2 separate regions of the Homo sapiens genome follow, and region 2 is linked to region 1. Evidence: fine-mapped QTL for protein levels in blood plasma. Region 1 holds a variant in brackets. A gene starts in the other region. All regions are shown on one strand. Distances are from middle to middle.

Region 1 (2,500 bases):
GGGGGCGGGACCCCTGCAAAGTCAGTGGCCAAGGTGAGGAGACCAGGGCCTCTGGGTGGGCTCCCAGTGCCATCACTGAGGGCCTGGGTGACTTGGGCAGGTGGCTGGGCCTGCCTATGCCCCCATTGTCCTTTCTATTACAGGGACCATGCACCCACTCTCAGGTGTAGCATTGCTGCTTCTGAGGTTGCTGCAAATATAACGCTTGGTGTACAGGCCTGGCTCCTCCGGAGGAGGCTAAGGTGGCTACTGCGTGAGGAGACCTTGACCACGCAGCTGAGCATAGTGCAATTCATGGCCATGCATCAAGGCTCTAGGAATCGCCACCACTGCACCTTCCTTTAGCGAGCCTCTTCTCGGCATGTCAGCGCTGTGCTGGGCACTGACAACCCTGGGCCCTCCCTCTGCCCAGCTGGCCCTCCCCACTATCCAGCCTGCACCCCTCCAGCATGCTCAGGACCTGCCGGGAGGGAGGGACAGCATGCACACTCCCACCCTGCCAGAGCCTTCCTCCTGTGCTCACTGTCAGCCCAGCGTGGTCAGAGAAAGGCCCAGCTCCGTCAGGCCGGCTCCATGAGGACTCCCAAGCCGTGGGCCTTCAGGGGCCAGCAGGCCAGATCCCCACCCCCTCAGCTGTCCTTCTCCCCAGGCGCCCCATCCCGCGAGGGGCCCAGCCTGCCAACCTCTAATCCTCCCCGTCATCTGACCCAGGCTCCACCCTACACTGGCTTTGCCTAGCCACTCTTCTGAGGCCCAAAAATGGACACAATCATTTATAGAGGGTTCGACAAGCCAAACGCAATGGGAAGATGACCTCACGGCGCCCACAGGCTCAAGCTCCCAGCACACACAGTGCACCCCACGCATTCCGGGGGCAGTGGCCAGGGGGCCAGGAGCAATGGTGCCATGCTGGAGGCCCTGGCAACCCTTCCAATTTATTCTCATACCCTCCTCACACCAAGGCCACAGGCCATGGGACCTTCAAGAAAAAGCTCCAGACAGGCCAGACACATGCACCCTGCCTGAGACAGCATCGGGGACTCAGCCCAGGAGGCACTGGGCCTGTGTCCAGGCAGGATTTGATGAATGAGTGATGGCAGAGAACAAACAACACAAATCAATCCACCATCAGCCTGCGTCAGGCCCAAATCCCTTGTTCAAAAACATTCACTAAGCACCGACTGGGGCCAGGTAACATCCTCAATGCACACACCTGGATGTGCCCTGCCGTGCCCTCAGGGATCAGCCAGACCAGTGGTGGAGGCAGAAGGGTCAACAGGTAACAACAGTCAAAAAAGAGCTGGCTTGGGGACCCTA[C/G]AAGAGTGCAGGCTGCCCTTGACCACACTGTCACCCTCACAGTCTGGATGTTTGTTTGGGCTGGAAGTGGATGTGGGAAGGCCGGGGGTGAAGGGTGGATGCAAGATACGGGCCCTTCTTCCTACGCCAGGACGCCAGGACTCTCCCAGCCTCCCAGCACAGCTCCTGCCATCCTTGCTCAGGAAACGCCTTCCTGTAGCCACAGGGAAACTGGAATTGCCCTATTACCCACTGATTTCACCAAGGCAAGGTAGGTATAGTGGTGGGGCTGCCTGTAAGAGACTAGGATTCCAGTTTCATTGACAGTGGGAGTTAGAGGCGGCACTGATCACCAACAGAAGACACTGAGGATGACCCTCCAATGATGGCACAGACTCTACAGGAAGGCACACAGCAGAGGCTGCTGTGGGTTGAGGCATGGGGCTTCCTGCGAGCAGGGCCTGCAACCCAAAGGGAGGGGAAGGCTACTTTCAGAGACCTGGCCTGGATGCCTGTCATGATGGTCATGCTGCCTTGGTTTCTGATGGGGGGAGGGTCCCTAACTAGTCTCCGGCAGGCAGAGAGCAGCTGGAACACTAAACAACTCCAGTCCCAGGAAGCCCGGCATGGGCAAGGTCAGCTGTTGGCCAAGACCAGCATGCCTAGCTGACCAACTGTCAGCCAACTGCCCGTGGCCACAGAACAGGGGCTCAAGAGAGAGGGATGGTGTCTCAGGAGCTCAGTGATACATCACCACCTCCTTGGAGGGGACACAGCCCTTGCCTACTGCCCCGAGAATGACATCAAAGATGCTGCTGCAGAGAAAAGACAACCAGGGCAAAGGAGACACACCAAGAGCCTTGGGGAGCCAGGAAGGGGTGGGACACCAGTGGGAAGGGGGCAGGGAACACAGCTCAGCTAACCTCCCTTCCCATTCATCTCCCTGGCCCTTTAGGGAAGGAAGCAGGCTCTGGCCCAGGGCTGCCTGCTCCAGGCACACAGATGGATTACCCAGTCATGGCAGCCCGGAGCAGGGGTGGCTGCATCTGTGCTGCCACCCCCCCACCCCACAACCTGAAGTCTTCCCAGCCCCCAGCCAGCTATTCCTGGGGCTTTAATCCCTCCTCCTCCTCCTCCTCCTCCTCCTCCTCCTCCTTCCCTGGGGTGGGGGGTTGGGGAGCTGGGTCTGGGCAAACCTGGACTT
Region 2 (3,001 bases), 110 Mb after region 1:
ACCACCCCCACCACGGACCCCGCTGCAGCTTCCAGGTGATGCCACAGGCCCTGAAATCAGGACACCCTTGCTGTACATGGGGGTCATCTTGAGGTTCTCTGCCAAGGATACTGACCTCTATGCCTGCCCCCAATTCTGCAGCTCAGGCACCTGGCTTCACCGCCAGGCCTTACCATGTGGAGAACAGGGGGCCGGGGTGGGGGGTCTGGGAGCCAAGGAAGGAGTGAAGCCCTCCAGACACCAACATCGCAGTCCTCGCCCCCTCCCTACAGACCCCATCCAGCCCAACTCCCCATGTGCAGCTAAAGCCACGCGCCCTCCTACCATACAAGGTGCAGGCAGCCCTCCCGCCTTCTTCAAAGAGGCATCTGCTCCGGCTCACTCCACCCTCCTCCCCCAGTGGCCTAACTAGTCGCCGGGTTCCAACCCTATCCCTTCTCCAGAGGTCATCTGGCCCCACCCAGCAGCCCAAACCAGTAGACCGGCCCTGCCCCATCACTTTGGTTTCTCCAGCATCCAAAGAACGTGGAGGGTCACCCCCCCAAAACAGCTGTCAAGGTCCAACAATTAAGCCATCTGTTGCCGCTCCCTGGGACTGGGAGAGGTGAGGTCGAGTTTCTTGGCGAGTTTCCTGCGTGCAGCCCCCACACCACAAAAGCCCCCGGTGCGAGCCGGAGCCCAGCGCGAGACGGCTGGAAGGGCGCGGGGAGGGAGCCGCTGCGGGGTGCAGGCGGGGAGAGGGGCGGCGGCTCGAGGCGCGGCCGGCGGGCGGAGGGTACGGAGGCGCCGGGAGAGCGTTCTCGGGGCGCGCTGCCAGGGTGCAGGAAGCCGGAGCGCGCGGGAGGGAGCGGGGAGCGGGATGCCGATTTCGGCTGGGGGCGGGGAGGCCCCTGATTGGGGCGCGGGAGGCGTGATGTCACGTCCGGCGGGGGAAGCCCTGCCTCGCGCACCCTCCGCCCCCGTCCCCGCCCCCACAGGTGGTGCCACCGCCCTGGGCGCTGGGCGTGGGGGGCCGCCCTCGGGGACCCCGGCCGCGGCCCCGCGCTGCCCGGCTCCGCCGCCTCCCGCCGGGGATCGATAGAGTCGCGCGGCCAGGCGGGCCCTCTGGGTCCCTAAGAGCCAGAGGAGCGCCCAGTGCGCCCCGGCCCGCGCCCCCGCGCCGCGCCCCGCCCCGCCCCGCCCGGTGCTCCCAGTCCCTCCCCCACCCCTGCGCTCCCACCCTGCCCCGCCCCTCTCCTCTCCCGCGGCCGCCTAGGGGCCGGGCCGGCGGCGGGGGAGGCGCCGAGCCGGGACTGCGCTAGCCCGCCGCGCTCTGGGCTGCCCGAGCGAGCGTTCGGACCTCGCACCCCGCGCGCCCCGCGCCGCCGCCGCCGCCGGCTTTTGTTGTCTCCGCCTCCTCGGCCGCCGCCGCCTCTGGACCGCGAGCCGCGCGCGCCGGGACCTTGGCTCTGCCCTTCGCGGGCGGGAACTGCGCAGGACCCGGCCAGGATCCGAGAGAGGCGCGGGCGGGTGGCCGGGGGCGCCGCCGGCCCCGCCATGGAGCTCCGGGCCCGAGGCTGGTGGCTGCTATGTGCGGCCGCAGCGCTGGTCGCCTGCGCCCGCGGGGACCCGGCCAGCAAGAGCCGGAGCTGCGGCGAGGTCCGCCAGATCTACGGAGCCAAGGGCTTCAGCCTGAGCGACGTGCCCCAGGCGGAGATCTCGGGTGAGTGAGGGCGCGGCGCCGGGAACCCGGGCCTGGCCGGGCTTTGGGCTCCGGACCCTGGTCTTCCCGACGCGGCTACTCGCCCCCGGCGCGGGATCCTGCCGCCTGCGCCCCGCCGCCCGGGCCCCGAATGGCTCCCTGCGCTGCGGCTCCTCTGCAACCCCACGGCCCTCGCCTCCAAGCCCCGCGCCGCACTCCCTCGCCAGGGTCTCCTCCGCCCCGCTCGGTCGTCCTCCGCCCCTCCCCGCCCCCCGCACGCCGGCTTCTTCCCTGCGGAGCTGATCTCGCCGGGCTGCGGGCTCGGGGCGCTCCTCCCGGGCCACGGCTGGAGCTGGGCGTCTTCTGCCCGCCGCTCGGCCCAGCGCGCCTGCAGGCCGGGAGTCCCAGCCCCGGGGCCGGCTGTCGGGGCGCTGTGGGGCTCGGCGTGGCCGGGCTTTCGGGGCGCCGCTGACGGTGGCCGCGGACCCCTTCTGCTCTGTACAGACCTCTCTGGGAGGCGTCTCCGGTCCTGCCCGGGGATTCTCGTAGGGTCTCCAGCAAAGGCAGCCTAGGTGGGTTTTATAAGCTGACCCCCTCGGGGGGTAGTGCGGAGGGGTGGGGAGGGAGCTGGGCACTTATCCGCGGGCGGAACGCCGCCGCCTCGTAGAGATTCCTGTCGAAGAACTTGTACGCGCCGGCCCCCGCCTGGCGCTTGGGCAGCCTCGTGCCGCGAGTCCAGCTGCAGGTGGTCGGCGCGTTGGATCCCGCCCAGGGGCCGTGTCATTTCTTTGTAAGAACAGCGGCCCTCTTGGCGCCCCCTAAGCCCTGCAGCCGCCTGCGGCTCTGCCTCTTCCCTCCCTGTGGTCCCGGAGGAGCTTTGGGGACAGAAGTGTACGGGTGGGTGGAACGGTGGGCTCCGTGTGCTAAGGAACTCTTGGAACCCAAGCTTCACCTTTCCACGTGTGGGAACCAACCTCGGTCTGTACCGCGTGCCAGGGACCCAGTGGGCAAGAACAAAACAGACTAGGTTCCTGCTCTGGGGGGCTCCTCTGAAACCAGGGGAGTGGGAGTGCGGGTGGAGGGCTACTCAGATGGGGACTCAGCGCAGAAATGCCCATGGTCCTGGGGATTCTGAGCAAGAAGGATCCGTGCATCTGGGTGAGGGGGGTCTGTGGCCATGCCTTGCCGCGGGGGGCGGAGTGGTGGGAGGAGGCAGTCGGGCTCTGGACCCCTGCCCCTCCAGGAGGAACAGAACCCACAGACAGCCCCTTGCCCTTGGTGGATCTCCCGATGCCCCCAGCCTGAGGTTCTTGTAAGGGC

Which allele goes with the higher level. Alleles are on the strand shown, and positions count from the first base shown. The strength of an association depends on the size of the effect and on how common the allele is.
For the plasma level of the protein whose gene starts at base 1,281 in region 2, allele G in region 1 goes with a lower level than allele C (weak association).

The links. PIP is the posterior inclusion probability: the model's chance that the variant is causal. Protein levels are from antibody-based Olink assays in UK Biobank. Linkage for the fine-mapping came from a reference panel and not from the study's own genotypes, which makes the PIPs less certain.
Region 2: it holds the start of GPC1, and the variant in region 1 is fine-mapped to the plasma level of the GPC1 protein (UK Biobank, PIP above 0.99).

The regions. Positions count from the first base shown.
Region 1 is chr2:127,103,052-127,105,551 of GRCh38, forward strand. All of the region lies in intron 1 of BIN1 (bridging integrator 1), which reads right to left. Among named protein-coding and RNA genes, the nearest start is that of BIN1, 2.9 kb to the right of the region's middle. RefSeq lists an enhancer at 679-1,231. The variant C/G (reference allele first, on the strand shown) is at 1,318.
Region 2 is chr2:240,434,383-240,437,383 of GRCh38, forward strand. It overlaps GPC1 (glypican 1), which reads left to right and starts at 1,281. Exons shown (of 9, transcript NM_002081.3): 1 at 1,281-1,702. The coding sequence starts at 1,537. RefSeq lists enhancers at 344-920, 2,654-3,001 and silencers at 750-1,409, 1,470-1,529.